3 linked regions of the Homo sapiens genome follow. The protein of the gene in region 1 interacts with the protein of each later gene in a pairwise test. Each region holds a gene or a part of one and is shown on either strand. Other genes may lie near its edges.

Region 1 (7,022 bases):
GGCTTGAGGGAGGAAGGGAGGAAATGGCAGGAGAGATGGACAGACCTGAGCCAATAATTCATTCTAAGAGCAGTTTTTATTTAGAAATGTGCTTCCACAACTTGGTGGCCACCTGGGGGCAGGTAGCCCCGGCTTGCTTGTTCTCTCTTTCCTAGCCCAAGAATCGGGTCCTTGGGTCTAAAGCACAGGGCCAAGTTCTCAAGGATCAACATCCCAGACAGCTCCCATGGTCTGGGGCTTGGAGCTGGTATGAAGGGTGAACCAGGTTCCATCCTGGACTGTTTATGGTTGGAGGGCCTGGGCCCCTGGCACCAGGACCTCAGCTCCCTCTCCTAGTAAGAGCTGGGATCACCCACAGGCCAGCTGTGGCCAGGTCCTGGTGGATATGACATTGGGAAGAACAAGGGGCTAAGAGAGGCTAATTTTCTGGTGCTGGATCCAGTTTATCTTCCTGAGGGGTGGAAGCCGGGGCAGGAGCCTCATCCCCACCATTGAGGGACTTCTGCTGCTCATTGCTGTTGGGCGAGGGGGTCCTGTTGCCCTGGGATCCCCAGCGGGTCAGGCGCTTTAGGGAGGAGTCACGGTGGGCAAGCAGAGGGGGCTGGAAGCCTGAGAAGGAGCTGCTGGTGACCGGACGCTTATCTGGCAGAGAGAAGGCAGGCAAGTAAGGAGAAAGGCATGCAAAGGTGAGAGGCGAGGGGCCTTGCCTCAGCCCTCAGAGGAGAGGGGAGCCTCCTGACTGCCAGTCCTGCTTTTGCTGGCCCTGGGAGATCTGGAGGTCTCCCAGGGAGACCTTTCTCCCTCCTTTCTCCCTCCCAGCTCCAGGGAAAGCTCCAGAGTCTATTCCTTCTCACCTCCAGGCTCAATTGGATGCATCAGCCGGTTCATCTGGACATTCCAGTGTTTCACGTTGGTGCTGGCCTGGCGCAGTTTTCTCTGGGCAGCCTGTGGGGACAGGGCCAGTGGGGAGTGATCAGAACCATCATCCATGGCATGGAGTCTTGATCTTTTCAGGTTCGCAGGCTGCTTAAAATCTGACCAAGACTACTGATCATCTCCCCAGAGAAAAACCATATATGCTCATAGAGTTATTAATACATACATGAATAGAGTTTGCCTCCAATTTCATGGGACTCATGGACTTCCAAAAGATAAAATGTAACCATAATAATAGTTTCCGTTTATTGAGCAGCTAAGATGTGCTAAGCATATTTATTATCTTATTTAACTTCCAGAGCAGAAGTTAACAACAAAAAAGTTCAAAAGAGGTTAAGTGACTTGCCCAGGGATACACTTGAGCTCTAAGCCACTGCACTACACCACCTTTCCAGCACCTAATCCAAGAACCTCTGTTCAACATTTCACGGAGCCATTAGCAGTGGTTGTGAGGTGGGGGGGATCATGGAGGAATTTTCCCTTTCTATGTTCCATATTTCTGTGTTTGAATTTATGGAGATTAAAGCTCCAAGGAGTAGAGCCAAAGTACAAGGATAGCAAGACAGGGGCTTGGAAGGGTAGAAGGAAAAATTTTTCCCCAGATTAATAATGATGTGAACAAAGATAGCAGCAAATGTTTCTTCAGCACTTACTACGTACTAAGTATCATGTATCATCTCATTTAATCTTCATAACAACGCTATTACCAGTTTCCCAGGTGAGAGACTAACTCCAAGAAGTTTGGGCATTTGTCCAAAGTCACACAGCCAGCAGCTGCTAGGGCCAGGGTTTGAGGGAAGGCAGCCTGGCTCCAGAGCCTGTGCCCTAATGAGCTCACCCTGCCAGCCTCCACCCCATCCCACCCCAGGCCTCACCTCCACATCCTCGTCAGCCCTCTGCCGGTTCTGCCGCACCTCCTCCAGCTGCTGCTGGGCCTGCTGCAGGGAGCGGCTCTGCTGTGCCATCTCCTGCTGCAGCTCTTCCTTCTCCTGCTGCGCCCGTTCGATGTAGCGCTCCTGCTCCTCCTTCAGCTGCATCAACTGCTTCAGCTTCTCTTCCTCCTCTTCCAGCAGTCTGCCGGGTGAGTGTGTACTGTGTAGCCTCTAGTGCCAAGGCACCTTGCAGGTGCACAGCAAGCAGGAAAACTGGGGTGTGTTCCAGGAGGGGTGGTGAGAGAACCAGAAGAGGTTCCTCAGGCCTACCTGGTCTGAGCGATTCGCACAGATTCTTCATCTCGCCGAGCTTTCACCTCTAGTTGCAGGGCCTCCTGCAACCGCTGCTGCATCTCCTCCAGCTCCTTGATGCGCTGCCGCTGCCGGGCAGCCTCCTCCTCCTTCAGCTCCATCTCAGCCTGCATGGAGGCCCGGGCCTGTGGAGGGGGGAGGTGGTGGACCAAGAGCCAGGTCAAAAGGGGCACGTGGGGGCGGAGGAGGAGGGGGTGGGCATGTTGCTAAGCTGCCTAGGGGTGAGGGTCTGGGGAACTCCTTCATGTTGGGGTTTCCTGATCTGACCCCTTTCTGAGAGCCTGACTGGAACAGATAATGGTCGGTGAACAGATGCCACGTGGGGGAAACGGGCTCAAGTTATTTCCTTCCTAGTACCAACCTTAATCATAATTATATAACATGTAATTAAACAACATTATATAATTAAATAAGATATAAAAATATGGTCATCTCCTTCCTAGCACTAACTTAATAATTATTATAATATATAATAATATGTTATAATCATGGCTGATGCTAGGAAGGATGTGACTATAACTACAATTATTACAACAAAAAGTTACTGGACACTACAAGTGTTTCCTCATTTAATCCTCACCGTACCTCTGTGAGCAAAGTTCTATTAGCATTAGCATTTTACTGATAAGGCTCAGTAAAATGAACTTGCCTGGGATCACGGGGCTCGTAAGAAGCAGAGCTAGGATTGAATCTACGTGTTTCTGACTCCAGATCCAGGTTTCTTAAATCCTAAATCTAATTGCCTCTGCACACCTAGTCCGCCTCCATACGCGTCCCGCTTGCCTCTCAAACTGGTTTCACTGTAAACTTAGTTCAAGTCTAGTCCAAACTTGGTCCAGTCTAATCCCCAATCACACGGTCTTCAACGGCTCCTTCTGCCCAAGCCCCAACCCACAGCCAAGGTCTCCGAACCAGGCCCCATCCATCCACGGGCTCGGACCTCGCCCCACACCCCTTTCCTAGCCCCAGGTTCTGTCCCTGGCGGAAGCCCCATCCCAAATCTCTTTTTCAAACCCGCGGACTCTGTCCCAACAATCCCTCATTTCAAGCTCCACCCCAGTGCACGCCCCTCAACCCAGGAGCTCCGCCCTCTGCCCAGGCCCCGCCCCCGGCGCTCCGCCCCTGGCCAGCCTCCCAGCCCACCGGTCCCGTCCCCGGCGCCGGGAGCTAACCCCACCTGCTCCGCCTCGCGCAGTTGGCCCTCGAGCGCCTGCTGCAGCTCGCGGTGCTGGCTGCGGCGCCGTTCCTCCTCCTCCTGCAGCAGCCGCTCGGCCTGCCGCTGCGCCTCCTGCAGCAGCTCCAGCTCCTGCAGCTTCCGCTCCTTCTCCTCCTGCAGCTGCTGCAGCCGCAGCAGCTCCTCTTCCTTGGCCGCCCGGCGCCGCTCCCGCTGCTCCCGCTGCTCGCGCCGTTTCTGCTTCAGGTCCTTGTGTAGGGACGTCTTCCCCTCGGCCTGCAGCCGGATCGCCATCTGGATGGCTGCCGAAGAGCGGGAGCGGGTCAGTAGGATCCTCGCACACGGCCCGAAAGGGGCCTTAGGAGTTTCCCGAGTCCACTCTCCAACCTCCCGCTGGACAAAGTATTATCACCCCCTTTTCACAGATGAGGCGCCTAAGGACCACCCAGACCCAAGCCACCTAGCGAGCACTCACCAGCTGTCCACTCCTGGCGCTGGCGCGTGTCTGAGGCGCTCATCTCATACGTGCGGTTGGCTGTCTTCACACAGAACATGCAGCGCTTTCCGTCGCGGTCTGGCAGCACCTGGCACAGGGTAGGTGGCCGCAGCCAGGCTGGCCTCACTGGGTCAGGGCCCCACCTGCCCCAAGGGTGCTCCAGCTCAAGCCCCTAGCCCTCCTGGCTATCTTCCCTGGGGACCCCACTCTGCCAGGAGCCTGCATGGCTTGCATCATAAGTTATGGGGGACTTAAGTCCCCACAACTCTGTAGCCTTTGCTCTTTGAAGGCTAGGTGGGTGCGTTTCCATCTTGCTATTATTCCACGGGGCCCAGTACATAATCGCCACTCAGTGTTTATGCAGATCACGCTTGAACACTGCCAGTAACAGGGTCCTCACTATCCATGACAACTCACTTCCACATAGCCCTGCTTGTTAAGAGTTCATTCATTCATTCCGCAGATGTTTTTGGAGTGCCTACTGAGTGCCACTCACTGCTCCAGGGGTTGGGATACTAAGGTGTGCCTAACAGACCAAATCTCTGCCTCCATTAAGTTTACATTCTGTGGAAAATAATAGCTACCACATTCTAGAGTCTGTACTAGTATTTTATATGCATCATTATCTTCACTCCACCTATACAGCTTTGCCAGGCAGGCATTATTAGCTCCACTTTACAGAGAAAGAAACTGAGGCACTAAGAGCTCCAGGATTGTCCACCTCACACTGTTAGTCTGTTAGTGATGAGGCTTGGACTTCTGCGTAGATCCGTGCTCCTTTCCACAGTAACACCTTATGTGACAAAATTAGACAGATCCTAGGATGGCTATGATAATTTTTTAAAAGGAAAAACAACTGTTGGTAAGGAAATGGAGAAACTGAGATCCTCACACACTGTTAGGGATATTATCCAGCCTTAAAAAGGAATGAAATTCTGATATATTTGACAACATAGATGAAGCCTGAAAACATTTCTAAGTAAAAGAAACCAGACACAAAGGGACAAATATTTTATGATTCTATTTATGTAAGATACCTAGAAAAGGCAAATTCATGGAGACAGAAAGCAGAATAGAGGATACTAGGAGCTGGGGTCAGGGAGTATGAGGAGTTATTGCTTGGTAGGTACAGAGTTTCTGTTTGGTGTGATGAAAAAGTTTTGGAAATAGATAGTGGTGATGGTTGTACAATATTGTGAGTATAGATCTTTCACCATGATCAGATGGGATTCATCCCAGGGATGCAAGGATGGTTCAACATGCACAAATCAATATGCATGACACATCATAGTAACAGAACCAAGAGCAAAAACCATATATGATCATTTCAATAGACCCTGAAAAAGCTTTCTAAAAAAATTCAACATCGTGTTATAAAAGCCCTAAAATATTGGGTATAGAGGCAACATACCTTAAAATAATAAACGCTATCTATGACAAACTCACAGCTAACATTGTAATAAATGGAGAAAAATTGAAAGCCTTTCCTCTAAGATCTGGAACAAGACAAGGATGCCCACTTTTACCACTTTTATTCCATGTAGTATTGGGAGTTCTGGCCAGAGCAATTAGGCAAGAGAAGGAAATGAAGGGCATCCAAACTGGAAATGAAGAAGTCAGATTAGCCTTGTTTGCAGATGGCATGGTCTTCTACTTAGAAAAATCTAAAGACTCCATGGGGCGTGGTGGCTTACACTTGTAATCCTAACACTTTGGGAAGCTGAGGTGGTTGGATTGCTTGAGGCCAGGAGTTCGACACCAGCCTGGGCAATACAGTGAGATCCTGTCTCTCTCTTAAAAAAAAAAAAAAGGCCGGGCACAGTGGCTTATACCTGTAATCCCAGCACTTTGGGAGGCCGAGGTGGGCAGATCATCTGAGGTCAGGAGTTTGAGACCAGCCTGGCCAACACGGTGAAATGCTGTCTCTACTAAAAATACAAAAAAAAAAAAAATTAGCCAGGTGTGGTGGCAGGTGCCTGTAATCCCAGCTAACTTGGGAGGCTGAGGCAGGAGAATCACTTGAACTCGGGAGGCGGAGGTTGCAGTGAGCTGAGATCGTGCCATTGCACTCCAGCCTGGGCGATAAAAGCAAGACTCCTCCTCCTCCTCAAAAAAAAAAAAAAAAAAAAAAGGGACTCCAACAAAAAACCGTTAGAGTTGATGAATGAATTCAGTAAAGTTGCAGGATAATTCAACATACAAAACCCAGTAGCATTTGTATACGCTAACAGCAAACAATCTGAAAAAGAAGTTGAGTGCAATCCCATTTCCAACAGCTACAAAGAATGTAAAATACCTAAGAATCGATGTAACCAAAGTGAAAGATCTATACAAGAAAAACTATAAAACTGATGAAATAAATTGAAGAGGATGCAAAAAAATGGAGAGATATCCCATGCTATGTATTGGAAAAATTAATATTGTTAAAATAACAATATTACCCAAAGCAATTTATAGATTTGGTGCAATCTCTGTCAAAATAGCAAAGGCATTCTTCATAGATATAGAAAAAAAATCCTAAAATTTATACGGAACTACAAAAGACCTCAAATAGCCAAAGTAAGCCTGAGTAAAAAGAACGAAGCTGGAGGCATCACATTTCCTGACTTCAAAATACACTACGAACTGGCCACGGTGGTACACACCTATAGCCCCAGCTATTCAGGAGGCTGAAGCAGGAGGATCCCATGAGCCCAAGGAGACTGAGGCTGCAGTGACCTATGATCATACCACTGCACTCCAGCCTGGACACCAGAGAAAAATCCTGTCTCTAAAATAAAACAAAAAAACAAAATGTAGTACAAAGCTATAGTAACCAAATCAGCATAGTACTGGCATAAAAAGAGACACAAAGACCAATGGAACAGAATAGATAACCTAGATATAAATCCATGCATTTACAGAGAACTCATTTTTGACAAAGGCTCCAGGAACACACAATGGGGAAAGAACAGTCCTTTCAATAAATGGTTCTGGGAAAACTAAATAACCACATGCAGATGAATGAAACTAGACCCCTATCTCTCACCATATAAAAAAATCAAATAAAAATGGATTAAACATTTAAATGTAAGACCTGAAACTATGAAACTACTAGAAGAAAACATTGGAGAAATATTCCAGGACATTGGTCTGGGCAAAGAGATTTTTTGTGGAAGACCTCAAAAGCATA
Region 2 (7,022 bases), on another chromosome or scaffold:
AAGATATAATCATCCTAAATGCATATAAACCCAACAAAAGAGCTTTGAAATACATGAAGCAAAAACTGACAGAACAAAAAGAAGAAATAGGCAAATCCACAATTATGTCTGGAGACATCAAAACTCCTCTCTCAGTAATTGACAGAACAAGTTGACAAAAAATCGGCAAGGACACAGTTTACAAAGAGTTTTTACATATCATCTGATATTCAATAAATCTCTTAAAAAAGTCAGGGAACTATTACACTATCAATATCTCCATTTTACAGATGAGAAGTATTTTGGTTTGTTTGTTTGTTTAAGACAGAGTCTCACTCTGTTGCCCAGGCTGGAGTGCAGTGGCACATATCGGCTCGCTGCAACCTCCACCTCACAGATTGAAGCAATTCTCCTGTCTCAGCCTCCTGAGTAGCTGAGATTACAGGCATCCACCACCAAGCCCAGCTAATTTTTGTATTTTTAGTAGAGACGGGGTTTCACTATGTTGGCCAGGCTGGTCTCAAACTCCTGGCCTGAAATGATGCACCCACCTCGGCCTCCCCAAGTGCTGGGATTACAGGCATGAGCCACCGTGCCCAGCCAGATGAGAAGTATTTTGATAGAGCTCACACAATAAGTGAATGACAAAATCAGGAATTATAACTCCAGTACTTTTTCCTCCCAGGCTCCTAATTCACAAACTACCTTGCTCAACAAAATGTTTTTATTTTTATATCACTCATACCCAAACAACAACCTTCAATCACTGTAAGTTTTAAATAGAGGTGAAAAAATGTAGTCGATTTTTCTCAATTTCTACTTTATACTTCTCTGTAAACTGACAGCAGTAGGGCTAAAAAACAAAGGTCTGATTCCTAGCATTTCTCATTATACATATCCCGTATTGCTCTCTTGATATTTCACTGATACATGTATCTTCTTTGATCCCTGATTATAGATATTACATCTTCTAGTTCCTTGGGGTTTTTTTTTTTTTTTTTTTGAGACGGAGTCTCGCCCTGTCGCCCAGGCCGGAGTGCAGTGGTGCGATCTCGACTCACTGCAACCTCCACCTCCCAGGTTCAAGCGATTCTTCTGCCTCAGCCTCCCCAGTAGCTGGGACTACAGGCACCCACCACCACATCCAGCTAATTTTTGTATTTTTAGTAGAGATGGGGTTTCACCATAGTGGCCAGGCTGGTCTCAAACTTCTGACCTTGTGATCTGCCCGCCTCGGCCTCCCAAAGTGCTGGGATTACAGGTGTGAGCCACTGCGCCCAGCCTGATCTTTAAACTCAATACAATTTGTGAACTCAATATTTCTTTATACATACTAACAAACTTTCAAAAGATAAAATCTCAAATAAAATCCCATTAATGTTTCTTCTTAGGTCAAAAAGATAGGTCCTGTACATGTCCAAGCAAGTCTTTTCAATATACCATATTAGAATCATATTTACCTTCATTAAAACTATCAGGAACATTGGCCACCAAGAGACACAAGAACCAGGCACCATTTCTAACATGTAGCAAAGCTTCAGCTACATCAACTATAGGGAGCAAGGAAGGGAGCTCTACAAGAAAACAAAGTCAGTGTTAGTCTTTGTTAACAGGTGCACTCCACCACACCCAGCTAATTTTTTTTATTTTCTGTGGAGACTGAATCTCACTGTGTTGCCCAGGTGGGTCTCAAACTTTGGCCTCAAGTGATCCTCCAGCCTCAGCCTCCCAAAGTGCTAAGATTACAGGCATAAGCCACCATGCCTGGACCCAGTGTTAAAGAGTGATATTTCTTTTTTTCTTCTTTAAGACAGGGTCTTGCTTTGTTGCCCAGGCTACAGTGCAGTGGTGTGATTATAGCTCACTGCAGCCTCAACCTCCTGGGCTCAAGCAATCCTCCTGCCTCAGCCTCCTAAACTCCTAGAATTACAGGCATGAGCCACCATGCCCAACCAAAAATGACATTTCATTGTATTATTAAATATCTTTTGACATTTCACAAATGTCATCTAAAATAAAGTACTTTCTTTTCATAGTCTAGAACCAAGCTGTCCAGTAGGATACCCACTAGCAACATAAGGATACTTATATTAAAAACAGTTCAGTTCCTCAATCACACTAGCCACATTTCAAGTAATCCACAGCCACAAAGAACACTGGACAGCATAGCATAGAACAGTACAGGAAATTTTATTTTATAGAACTGGTCTAAAGAGTTATTTTCACGAAAATCTTATTTGCTTTTTTTTTTTTTTTTTTGCGACGAAGTCTCGCTTTTGTCCCCCAGGCTGGAATGCAATGGCGCAATCTCAGCTCACCGCAACCTCCGCCTCCAGAGTTCAAGCGATTCTCCTGCCTCAGCCGCCCGAATACCTGGGATTACAGAAGCCTGCCACCACACCAGGCTAATTTTTGTATTTTTAGTAGAGACAGGGTTTCACCATGTTGACCTGGCTGGTCTCCAACTCCTGACCTCAGGTGATCCACCCACCTCGGCCTCCCAAAATGCTGGGATTACAGGCGTGAGCCACCGTGCCTGGCCTATACTTTTTTTTTTTTTTTTTTTTTTTAAGAAAAGGTCTGCAGCCAGGCACAGTGGCTTATGCCTATAATCCCAGCATTTTGGGAAGCTGAGGCAGGCAGATCACAAGGTTAAGAATTCGAGACCAGCCTGGCCAACATGGTGAAACCTCGTCGCCACTAAAAATACAAAATTAGCTGGGCATGGTGCCGCATGCCTGTAATCCCAGCTACTCAGGAGGCTAAGGAAGGAGAATCACTTGAACCCCGGAGGCGGAGGTTGCAGTGAGCCGAGATCACACCACTGCACTCCAGCCTGGGTGACAGAGTGAGACTCCATCTCAAAAAAAAAAGACAAGGTCTCACTCTGGACAGAGTGCAATGGCACAATCATGGCTCACTACAGCCTCAATCTCCCAGGCTCAAGCCATCCTCCTGCCTCAGCTTCCCATGCAGCTGGGACTACAGGTATACACCACCACACTAGGCTAATTTTTTTCATTTTGGTAGAGACAAGGTCTCACTATGTTGCCCAGACTGGTCTTGAACTCTTGAGCTCAAGTGATCCTCCTGCCTCGGCCTCCCAAAGTGCTGGGATTACAGGCATGAGCGACAGCCTTCTTTACATTTTTCTGTCCTCTTTTATTTCTATCATTCACACCTATTATATACAATCTGGAAAATACAAAAAGGTACGAAGAAGAAAATTAAAATCTGCCCTAATCCCAGAATTCAAAGTTAATAAAAAATGTTTTCACAGGCCTGTAGTCCCAGCTACTCAGAAGGCTGAAGTGGGAGGATCCCTTGAGTCCAGGAATTCAAGCCAGTGGGCTATGATCCTGCCACTGTACTCCAGCCTGAGCAACAGAGCAAGACTCTGTCTCTAAAAAAAAATAAGTATTTTATTTTAATTCATCAAGGGTATTGTTCTTGAACTTTTAACAAAACTGGGATTATAGTCTACTTAACACTTTGCCCTTTGCTTTTTTCACTTAACATATTGTAAACATTTTCCAAAATCATTAACGAGCATTAAAGTCATTAAATCAAAGATACCATGTTAATGTCTGCATAATATGTCACACTATGAAAATAATATAATTTACTTAATCATTGTCCAACTATTAGTCACTTTTGACTTAAAATCACATAACATGTTTGTTATATGATCCCTAAAATAACACAGCATACCAGGCTAAGAAGTTACACAGTATCATTTAACAAGAAACTATATATGAAATCCATCTTAGCACTCAGTACAGTACCTGCTTGTAAAATACAAAGTACATCTGCAGCTTCCTCCAAATATACTGGACTCTCAAAAAGTTCAGAAGACTTGAAAAAAAATTCTCCGTTGGACTCAGACACCTTAAAAAAGAAAAAAAAAAGATATAAACTCTATTAATTTCAGATAATTAAATCCCTATTTTTATAATTATTTCTTGAGCTCACAGATTATGTCTCTTAATGTATCACTAATATACCACAGCAGAATATGCAGTATTCAATCAATTTCAACCAATTTAACCACACACAGCAGTCATGTTAATTATTATTCAGATATAGCAGTATCAATCTCAAGAACTGATTTCTATCTAAATATTTGGAGACAACTGGAATTAAAGGATAAGGCAAGCCAAAGAAATGAACTACAAATGCAGCCTACATAAACTGCTTTAAAAAAGCCAAGAACAGTCAACCTAAAGCAGTTTAACAAATATAAATTCATGGCCAGGTGCAGTGGCTGACGCCTGTAATCCCAGCACTTTGGAAGGCCAAGATGGGTGGATCAACTGAGGTCAGGAGTTCGAGACCAGCCTGGCCAACATGGTGAAACCCTGTCTCTACTAAAAATATAAAAATTAGCCAAGCATGGTGGCCATCTGTAATCTTAGCTACTCAGGAGGCTGAGGCAGGAGAATCGCTTGAACCCGGGAGGTGGAGGCTGCAGTGAGCCGAGATAGCACCACTGCACTCCACACTGGGAGACAGAATGAGACTCCGTCTCAAAAAAAAAAAAAAAAAGAAAAAGAAAAAAGAAAACAAACAAACATATATATATATATATATATATATATATATATATACGTGTTCAATTCTGAATAAACTGTTGGAAAAACAAAGAATTAAAGTTTAGATAACAAAATCTACTAAGCTTTTTGGAAATTCTGCACAATAGTTTCATAACCATATTTCCTATATAATGAAGAGTGCCAAACTAAAAAATTGGAAATCTCCCAGAGGAGAAAGGTCACTTATTTATTAGAGTCACCAAGTGAGGTATTACGGAAAAGATGAAGGAAAACTCTTGGCTGAAATTTAAAAGTATCAAAATAGGCTGGGCATGGTGGCTCATGCCTGTAATCTCAGAACTTTGGGAGGCCGAGGTGGGAGGATCACCTGAGGTCAGGAGTTCGAGACCAGCCTGGCTAACATGGTGAAACCCCGTCTCTACTAAAAATACAAAAATTAGCAGGCATGGTGGCGGGTGCCTGTAATTCTAGCTACTCAGGAGGCTGAGGCAGGAGAATCGCTTTAACCCAGGAGGCAAAGGTTGCAGTGAGCAAGATCACACCATTGCACTCCAACCTGGGCAACAAGAGCGAAACTCTGTCTCAAAAAAACAAACAAAAATAAATAAAAGTATCAAAATAGTAAAAAAGAGAAGGAAATTATAATTGGTGATGGAAATTTTAGAAAAATTTTTTAACATACCTTAAAAACTGTCTAAAACTCGGCCGGGCGCAGTGGCTCGTGCCTGTAATCCCAGCACTTTGGGAGGCCAAGGAGGGCGGATCACGAGATCAGGAGATCGAGACCATCCTGGCTAACACGGTGAAACCCCGTCTCTACTAAAAATACAAAAGATTAGCCAGGCATGGTGGCGGGCACCTGTAGTCCCAGCTACTCGGGAGGCTGAGACAGGAGAATGGTGTGAACCCGGGAGGCGGAGCTTGCAGTGAGCCGAGATTGTGCCACTGCACTCCAGCCTGGGCGACAGAGTGAGACTCTGTCTCCAAAAAAAAAAAAAAAAAAAAAAAAACTATCTAAAACTCACCAAAATCCTCTCTACCAGTATTTTCTATGAAAACAGAATTTAGTCCTTTCTCTTTTTGTCCACAATTTATAAAACTAAACTTTATTTACTATAAATTAACTGACTCCCCAAAATTATAACAGTAAATAAACATAAAGATCTAATTTAGTGGGTTTTTGTGGTGGTGGTGGTTGTTGTTTTTGAGGCAGTTTTACTCTTGTTGCCTAGGCTGGAGTGCAATGGCACAATCTCGGCTCACCACAACCTCCACCTCCCAGGTTCAAGCAATTCTTTTACAGGCATGCACCACCACTCCTGGCTAATTTTGTATTTTTTAGTAGAAACGGGGTTTCTCCATGTTGGTCAGGCTGGTCTTGAACTCCCAACCTCAGGTGATCCGCCCACCTCGGCCTCCCAAAGTGCTGGGATTACAGGCGTGCACCACCACGCCCAGCTAATTTAGTTATTTATATGATAGAACTTTGACATTCAAAAATTTTAAATTCAGAGTTTCAATTAACTATATTACCCAAAGGTCTATGACCTAAGTAATCTATAATTTTACAAAGAAGATAACTTGAATAGCTTTCATTAGTGTAAAGAAGCACTTTGGTCATTTAGTGATTGAGACTAGCCAATCATCCTACATTCAATTCAGCATTGATACTCCCCTCTGCTGTCATATATGAGGCTGTTACTGCTCATCCAGTGTCTAAATGAATCACATACATTTTTCAGTTATTCACATTCAGTTATTGAAAATGTTACTTCATTACACTTTATGGGAGAAATTGTATCCCATAAAGGTATTATCTGCTAATAAATTTGATAATCTGTACAAGCCTTGAGATAAATCCCTTTCTAAATGTCAAGAAGCCACTGTGTATGGATTCCATACGGAAAAAAATCCCTCTCATAGAAAATGCAGAACAAGTATAAATGAGAGAAAATGATAATTAAGAGAAGGACTTTAAGGCAGACTTATAATATCCTTTCAGGCTTTGAAAGGAAAACAAATATATAGAAATAAAAGTAGAGAAGGCCGGGCACGGTGACCCATGCCTGTAATCCCAACACTTTGGGAGGCTGAGGCGGGTGGATCACCTGAGTTCAGGAGTTCGAGACCAGCCTGGCCAGCCTGGTCAACATGGTGAAACCCCATTTCTACTAAAAATACAAAAAATTAGCTGGGCGTGGTGGCGGGCACCTGTAATCCCAGCTACTCATGAAGCTGAGGCAGGAGAACCGTTTGAATCTGGGAGACAGAGATTACAGTGAGCTGAGATCACACCACTGCATTCCAGCTTGGGCAATAAGAATGAAACTCCGTCTCCAAAAAAAAAGAACAAAATAAGAGTAGAGGAGAATTCAACCTGCCTGACTTCTTGTCTCTTTTTCTGTCTACCTCCCTATACATAGACATCAAATCATGCATACTTTGAGCTGTGGTTAAAAGAAATGCACCTTGTTCATAATTGCCAACAGT
Region 3 (7,932 bases), on another chromosome or scaffold:
CCAATGTCCCAGACAGGCACGTTGGGTGTGGGGGCCTCAGGGATCTGTGGGGTAGGGGGCTCCAGCTCTGGCTCCGGCTCCAGCTCTGGGAAGAAGAGGAGGCACTGGGGGACTTAAGAGACGTTTTCTCTCCCTCAGGCTACCCTTTCCATTCCCGAAGGCTCATGGTGGGTTCCCTCCTAGGTGCCCCCCACCCCAGCAGCCGTATCAGACTGTATGACCTTGGGCAAGCTTTCATCGCTGTCTGGGCCTTGTCCCCACTAACCATGGGTAGCAGACACAACTCACCTACCATGTGCCCAGTACCCTGTATACCACTCCACACACCTTCTTGCATTGAATCCTCCAAAAGCCATTCAAAGGGCTATGATAACAGGCTCAGAGAGGTTGAGTGACTTGCTCAGGGTCACACAGTTTGTGAGTGGTTGGGCTGGGCTTCAGTCACAAGCATTCTTCTCTCTCTCTCTTTTTTTGTTTTTTTGTTTTTTTTGCATTCTTCTCTTAACCAAGACATTATGTGGGTCCAAGAGGTTAAAAAACAGGACAGGGGCTGGGCAAGGTGGCTCATGCCTGTAATCCCAACATTTGGGAGGCCGAGGTGGGGCAGATTGCTTGAGACCAGGAGTTTGAGACCAGCCTGGGCAACATAACAAGACCCTGTCTTTAAAAAATAGCCTGATGTGCCTGGGCTCTGTGGCTCACACCTGTAATCCTAGCACTTTGGGAGGCCTAGGCGGGTGGATCATCTGAGGCTGGGAGTTCAAAACCAGCCTGACCAACATGGAGAAACCCCGTCTCTACTAAAAATACAAAATTAGCCAGGCGTGGTGGCACATGCCTGTAATCCCAGTTACTCAGGAGGCTGAGGCAGGAGAATCTCTTGAACTTGGGAGGCAGAGGTTGCAGTGAGCTGAGATTCCGCCACTGCACTCCAGCCTGGGCAAGGAAGTGAGACTGTGTCTCAAAACAAAAACAAAAACAAAAACAAAATGGGAATATAAGCAGTGAGAATTAAATGAGCTTCCAGGAAATAGGAGGGCTGAATTAGCCCTCCCAGATTGCCTGTCTGTTCCCTTGTTTTTACCACCAGGAGCAATAAATGATAACTCCCGCTTATTAACGGATCACTTAAAATATGTTGGGCCTGGGGCCGGGCGCGGTGGCTCACGCCTGTAATCCCAGCACTTTGGGAGGCTGAGGCGGGCGGATCATGAGGTCAGGAGATCGAGACCATTCTGGTTAACACAGTGAAACCCTGTCTCTACTAGAAATACAACAATTAGCTGGGCATGGTGGCGGGTTCCTGTAGTCCCAGCTGCTCAGGAGGCTGAGGCAGGAGAATGGCGTGAACCCAGGAGGCGGAGCTTGCGGTGAGCCGAGATCGCGCCACTGCACTCCAGCCTGGGCAACAGAGCGAGACTCCATCTCAAAAAAAAAATAAAAAAAATGCTGGGCCCTAGGCTAGTGTTACATTCCTGAGCCCTAATTCTTGTGATATCCATTACTCTTCTAGATCCCCCTGTGTGACACTTAGCACCATCTGTCATTTTTTTTCTTTCTTTTTTTTTTTTTTCTTCCATTGAGATGGAGTCTCCCTCTGTCGCCCAGGCGGGAGTGCAGTAGTGCAATCTCAGCTCACTGCAACCTCCACCTCCCGGGTTCAAGCGATTATCCTGCCTCAGCCTCCTGAGTAGCTGGGAGTACAGGTATGTGCCACCATGCCTAGATACTTTTTTTTTTTTGTATTTTTAGTAGAAACAGGGTTTTGCCATGTTGGCCAGGCTGGTCTCGAACTCCTGAGCTCAGGTGATCCACCCACCTTGGCCTCCCAAAGTGCTGGGATTACAGGTGTGAGCCATCATGCCTGGCCCATCTGTCATTTTCTTGTTGATGGATTTCCTGTCAATTCCACTACACTGTGAGCTCCATGGGGCAGGGAGGGTCATCTGTCTCTTTCACTAGTGTGTCCTCAGTGCCTAAATCAGGGCCTGGCACATACAATAGAAGCTCAACAAACCTCTGCTTGAATAAATGAATGAATATGAGCAAATAAAATTATATACTCTCCAAAATGGAGATCATTATTCTCACTGAACTGATGGAGAGGCTGAGGCTTAAGGGCTCAGAACAAAGACACGGAAGCTAGAAGGTAGGAGAGTAGGAGGCAGGCTGAAGATGGATATCCAGGTAGGAAAGGATGGGCCTGAGCCATTGAAGGAGAGACCCGTTGGGGCCAAGAGCCGTTTAGCCTCTGGACAATACTATCACGGGTTTACATTCACTGTTCCTTCCTCAGATGGACCCTCTGCCCACAGGACCCCGGCAACTCCTCCTACCCTCTTTAGGGGGAAAGAGGGAACAGGGTAGCTGGGCCCCAGCGGCTTCCTGCTGGGCTTTTGCACTCCCCACAACTTCCTGTGTCTGTATGGTTGATGCTCCGGAGGCAGACAAAACCCAAGCATCCGGCTTCCCAGCCCGGCCCAAGCTCAGGGTGGGGGAACCATGTACCTGGGGCCTCCTGCTCCGGCTCCGGGTCTGGCTCCGGCGGTGGGTTCTTATGCCTCCCCCAGAGGGCCTTGGAGAGTCGAAGGCGACTGGTCCGTGACTCCTTGGGAGGCGCAGATAGGACCCGACGGAATATCGAGCGAGGGGCTGGCTGGGTGCTGACCATGGGCTCCTGGTGGCTCAGGGCCCTGCCCCAGCCAGCAAAGCGGCCCCAGCGGAACCCTCCAGCCGCCTTCTCCCCACCGCCCCCTGTGTGCCAGCGGTAGGAAGTCAGCGGAGAGGTGGCTGTGGGCTGGGTTTGGGAGGTCCGGCTTGGCGACGGTGGGTCCATGGTTGGGGGGGGGGGTCTCCTGGGGGACGAGAGAGTGACAGTAGTGCCCAGTGTCTGTCCACATACTGCCCTCATCTCGGCCCCCTCCCCACCCTCAGCTCTGCCTCCAGGAATCCCCCTGCCCCCACCTCCACTCCCTCCCTTACCTTGGTTTCCTGACCAGCCCCAGAATCAGCAGCCGTCTGCACCCCGCCTGGCTTCCTCCCTCGGAACCCAACTCCACGTGACCCTCTCTGTCCCACCCCACCCCACAGCCAGGCTGGGAGGGCACAGTGCGGGCAGGTTGCTGGAGGTTCGAGGGAGGAGAAGAGAGGAGGTGGGTTACCAGGCTTCTAGCAAGAAGGACCCAGACTGCCTCCCTGACGGGGAGGCAGCACTTGCCCCTCTCTCTGAGCCTCCGTTGCCTTCTCTGCAAAATGAGTACAGGCTGAACAAATGCTGGCGAGAATACAAAGCACCTAGAACTCTAATCCACAGTTGGCCGGAGTGTAGACCCATTCACTCATGTTGGGAAACGGTTTGGCAGGATCTACTAACACTACTAGCTGGATCTTCTCTGACTCAGCAATTCCATTGCTAGGTAGACGTCCAATAGATATGCCCCCCCAGCACAATGCATAATAGCCCCACATTGGAAGCAGCCTAAGTACCCATTAGTGGGAGAAGGAATAAATTGTGATCTCTTCGCACAGCAGAATATCATACAGCAGTGAGAACAAACTAAAGAATGATTTAACTTGGGTGAATCACAAACAATGTTGAGCCAAAACCAAAACCAAAGCCATAAAATGCCAGTAATCTGAGCTATTCAGGAGGCTGAGGGAGGAGGATCGCTTGAGGCCAGGAGTTCGAGGCTGCAGTGAGCTGTGATCATGCCTGTGAATAGGCAGTGCACTCCAGTCTGGGTGACATAGGGAGACCTCATATCTAACTTTTTTTTTTCTTTTTCCCCTCCCTGCCCTCGGGAGACCCCATCTCTAAAAAGCAATAATAAATAAATTTAAAAACCCCAAAACAATGAAGAGTATACACTTTGTGATTCCATTTACATAAAGTCCTAAAGCAGGCAAAACCATGTCTAACAAGCAGGGTATCAGTTTCTTTTGGAGGCACTGGTGGCTGGGAAGAGGGTACAAGGGGGGCTTCTGGAAGATGGCAAGATTTATTATTACTCTTATTATTATTAATTGATTTATTTATCGAGAAGGAGTTTCGCTCTGTCTCCCAGGCTGGTGTGCAGTGGCACGATCTTGGCTCACTGCAATCTCTGCCTCCCGGATTCAAGTGATTCTCCCTACTCAGCCTCCTGAGTAGCTGGGACTACAGGTATTCACCACCATGCCTGCCTAATTTTTTTGTATTTTTAGTAGAGACGGGGTTTCACCATGTTGGTCAGGCTGGTCTTGAACTCCTGACCTGAAATGATCTGCCCGCCTTGGCCTCCCAAAGTGCTGGTATTATAGGCGTAAGCCACCGTGCCCGGCCCTTATTATTATTATTATTTATAAATGAGGTCTATAAAAATAATATAGATCTCATAAAATAAAAATATAATATTTATATTACATAGTAATATAAATAATATTACATTATACATAATATGAATATTATTATTTTTTGTAGATGAGGTCTGTCATCCAGGCTGGAGTGCAGTGGTGCCATCATAGCTCTCTGTAACCTCTAACTCCTGGGCTCAAGAGATCCTCTCGCCTTAGCCTCCTGAGTAGCTGGGACTACAGCTGCATGCCACCACACCTGGCTTATTAAAAACAATTTTTTTGTTGTTGTTGAGATGAGGGTCTTGCTTTGTTGCCCAGGCTGTTCTTGAACTCCTGGCCTCAAGTGATCCTCCCACCTCAGCCCCCTAAGTAGCTGGGATAATAGGCACATGCTACCATGCCTGGCCTATTTTTTTTTTAATTGAGGTAAAATTCATATAACACAAATTTAGCATGTTCTTTTTTTTTTAATAAGATTTTTTTTTGAGACAGGGTCTTGCTCTGTTGGCCAAGCTGGAGTGCAGTGGCACAATCACAGCTCACTGCATTCTCAACCTCCTGGGCTCAAGCGATCCTCCTACCTCAGGCTCTCGAGTAGCTGGGACTACAGGTGCATGCTACCTGACTAATTTTTAACTTTTTGTTTGTTTGTTTTTTGTAGAGATGGGGCCTCACTATGTTGCCCATGCTTGTCTTGAACTCCTGGGCTCAAGCAATCCTCATGCCTCAGCCTCCCAAAGTGCTGGGAATACAGGAATAGCATCAGCCTCTGTGCCCAGAGAGACGAAGCCTTGTTCTGTCACCCAGGCAGGAGTACAGTGGCTATTCCCAGGCATGATTGTGGGTCACTGCAACCTTGAATTCCTGGGCTCAGGCAATCCTCCTGCCTCAGCCTCCTGAGTAGCTGGGACTGCAGGTGCATGCCACCATGCCTGGCTAATTTTAATTTTTTTTTTTTTGTAAAGAGACAGGGTCTCACTATGTTGCCCAGGCTGGTCTCCTACTCCTGGGCTCAGGCAGTCCTCCTGCTTCAGCCTCTGTAGTGGCTGGGACTGCAGATGTGTGCCACCACGCTTGGCTTAACATGTTCTATTTCTTGAGCTGGGTCCTGGTTACATGGCTGTGTGCTGTTGTGAAAATTCATCAAGCTGTGCCCTTGGGAGCACTTTCTTGTATCTCTGTTAGGCTTCCACAGATGTTTACTTGAAAGCCAGAGGTAAGTAAATGCCATTCTGAGGAATAAATGAGTCAGCATAAATCCGGTCCAGGAGCCGAGTACCAGCTGGCCCCTCTCCCTCTGTGTGACCTCAGACAAGTCATTTCCTCTCTCTGAGCCTCGTTTTCCTTATTTGTACAAGACGATAATATCAGTTTCAAAAGATTCATGTAAGCCTTTGTCTAGTCAACAAATGTTTCCCGAGTGCCTATTACATGCTAGGTGCTGGAGAGGCCGCAGAGAACTAACCAAACTTGGTTTCTGCCTTCCTGGAGCTCACAGATGATGGAGGTAGATAAGATCCTAAACTCATACATGAGACATTTCTAGCTGGTAAGGAGGACCTAGAAGGAAATAGGCTGCAGTGAATGCTGAGCAAAAATGCCACTCTTTGAGCTGGAAAAATCAGGGAGGACTTCCCTGAGGAGGTGACATTTGCAGCCATTTGTATCTAGCAGATGGAGTCCACTATGTCTGTGTAACAAGCATTCCAAAAGTGCCAGTGAATTAACATGTCCCTGAGAGCAGCCCTCACATAATAACTGGTGGGAATTAGTGTATAAATACCCCAGCTCCCTCAACCCTTGTGTGGGATGACTCAGGTATGTGTCCTATGCTCTCCCTCAGGGCTTCGAAGTGAGACTGAGCTCTCTTGCCTACAGTGGAAACTTGCTTGAAAACACATTATTCCCTGGCTGCCTCCAGTTCCCTGCATCGGTACCTGGGTTGTTCACCTCTCTATTTTTTCTTTTTCTTTTTTTTTTTTTCCTTCCTTCCTTCCTTCCTTCCTTCCTTCCTTCCTTCCTTCCTTCCTTCCTTCCTCCCTTCCTCCCTTTCTCCCTTCTTTCCTCTTTCTTTCGTTCTTTCTTTCTTCCTTTCTTTCTTTTTTTTTCTTTGAGACAAGCTCTCACTCTCTTCTCCAGGCTGCTGTACAGTGACGCAATCATGGTTCACTGCAGCCTCGACCTCCCAGCCCAAGCAATCCTCCCACCTCAGCCTCCGGAGTAGCTGGGACTGCAGGCACACAACATTGTACCTGGATAATTTTTTCTTTTTTTGAGACAGGGTCTTGCTCTGTCTCCCAGGCTGGAGTGCAGTGGTGTGATTTCAGCTCACGGCAACCTCTGCCTCCTAGGCCCAAGTGATCCTCCTACCTCAAGTGTGTGGCACCACTCCTGGCTAATTTTTTGTATTTTTGTTAGAGACGGGGTTTTGTCATGTTGGCCAGGCTGGTCTTGAACTCCTGAGCTCAGGCGATCCACCCTCCTCAGCATCCCAAAATGCTGGGATTACAGGCATGAGCCACCGTGCCTGGCTATGCCTGGATAATTTGAAAATTTTTTTTTGCAGAGATGAGATTTCACTCTATTGCCCAGGTTGTTTTCGAACTCCTGAGCTCAGGTGATCCCCTCGCCTCAGCCTCCCAAAGTGCTGGGATTACAGATGTGAGCTGCCGTGCCCTGCCCTGGGATCTCCTCTCAATAAACTACTTGTACTGGAATTATTGTCTTAAGGTCTGCTTTTGGGAAGACCCAAACTAAGACAATGCATGATGATGCATGAACAGAGACTTTGTTTCCATGCTGTCTTTATTGGAGGTCTGTGGCTGGCAGGGTCCTTGGGGGTGGCTCCCTCCTGGATCTCTTAGAGACACTCCTGGCAGGTCTTGGCTTAACAGTCTGGAAAAAGACAAGGGAGTGTGAGGCTTGGGGGTGGTTGTGGTATGTGGCTGGGTCTGCCCTCCTGGTGGTGGAACCCTGGATCAGGGAGGGGACAGTGGCCCAAAGTGAGAGAGTGAGGACAAAGCCAACTATAGGCCGAGATGGATGTGCTAGTCAATAGCTTAATGAAATGGAGTGGCAGTATGTAGGTAGCACGAGATTGTCCAGGTGTGATTCTAAAATTGTTTTAGTGATGGCGATCAAGGGCTGGGATGAGGTCATCAGGTCAAAGTTGTGCTGGCATAAGAGTTGTCATCAGGGGTTAAGGAGTCAGGGACGAAACAAGCAACCTCAGAGTTGAGATTGTCTGGACAGAGAATTGCAACACAGGATTAAGGACTGGACAGAGGTTGTGAAGGCAAAAGGTCACAGCCTAGGTTCATGTTGTGTGGACAGAGGGCCTTCGGGTAGGGGCAGGGGTGAGGTCAAGGTTCGGCGGGCCAGGATGAGGTGGTGCAGCCTGACAGGTTGTGACTTGGGTAGAGAAGTCATGAAGGCCAGGCTGAGGTTGTGAGGGCAGAGGGGCTGTTGGCAGGTGTCAGGGTCCATGCCTTGGCTGGAAAGGTAGAGGTATTAGGAGCTGGGGAAAGGACAGGCTGGCTGGGTCTGGGGCTGAGCTGAGGCTGCATAGGCAGAAGTCACAGGATCAGGGATGTTGCC

What was found. Proteins that work in one complex are often made in the same cells at the same time.
Region 2: the proteins of DEF6 (region 1) and INTS2 interact in binary tests that used the Homo sapiens proteins (3 or more experiments, as listed by UniProt).
Region 3: the proteins of DEF6 (region 1) and RASAL3 interact in binary tests that used the Homo sapiens proteins (3 or more experiments, as listed by UniProt).

The regions. Positions count from the first base shown.
Region 1 is NC_000006.12:35,314,807-35,321,828, reverse strand, and holds the end of DEF6 (differentially expressed in FDCP 6 homolog), read right to left. Parts: intron 3,939-7,022; coding exon 3,830-3,938; intron 3,657-3,829; coding exon 3,358-3,656; intron 2,306-3,357; coding exon 2,139-2,305; intron 2,011-2,138; coding exon 1,812-2,010; intron 946-1,811; coding exon 855-945; intron 643-854; coding exon 419-642; 3' UTR 58-418; downstream 1-57.
Region 2 is NC_000017.11:61,917,961-61,924,982, forward strand, and holds part of INTS2 (integrator complex subunit 2), read right to left. Parts: coding exon 7,001-7,022; intron 3,868-7,000; coding exon 3,765-3,867; intron 1,554-3,764; coding exon 1,440-1,553; intron 1-1,439. UniProt on the Homo sapiens protein: Component of the integrator complex, a multiprotein complex that terminates RNA polymerase II (Pol II) transcription in the promoter-proximal region of genes.
Region 3 is NC_000019.10:15,461,523-15,469,454, forward strand, and holds the start of RASAL3 (RAS protein activator like-3), read right to left. Parts: upstream 3,023-7,932; 5' UTR 2,983-3,022; intron 2,856-2,982; 5' UTR 2,837-2,855; coding exon 2,509-2,836; intron 86-2,508; coding exon 1-85. Other genes in the region: PGLYRP2 (N-acetylmuramoyl-L-alanine amidase isoform 2 precursor), read right to left, coding at 7,846-7,932. UniProt on the Homo sapiens protein: Functions as a Ras GTPase-activating protein. Plays an important role in the expansion and functions of natural killer T (NKT) cells in the liver by negatively regulating RAS activity and the down-stream ERK signaling pathway.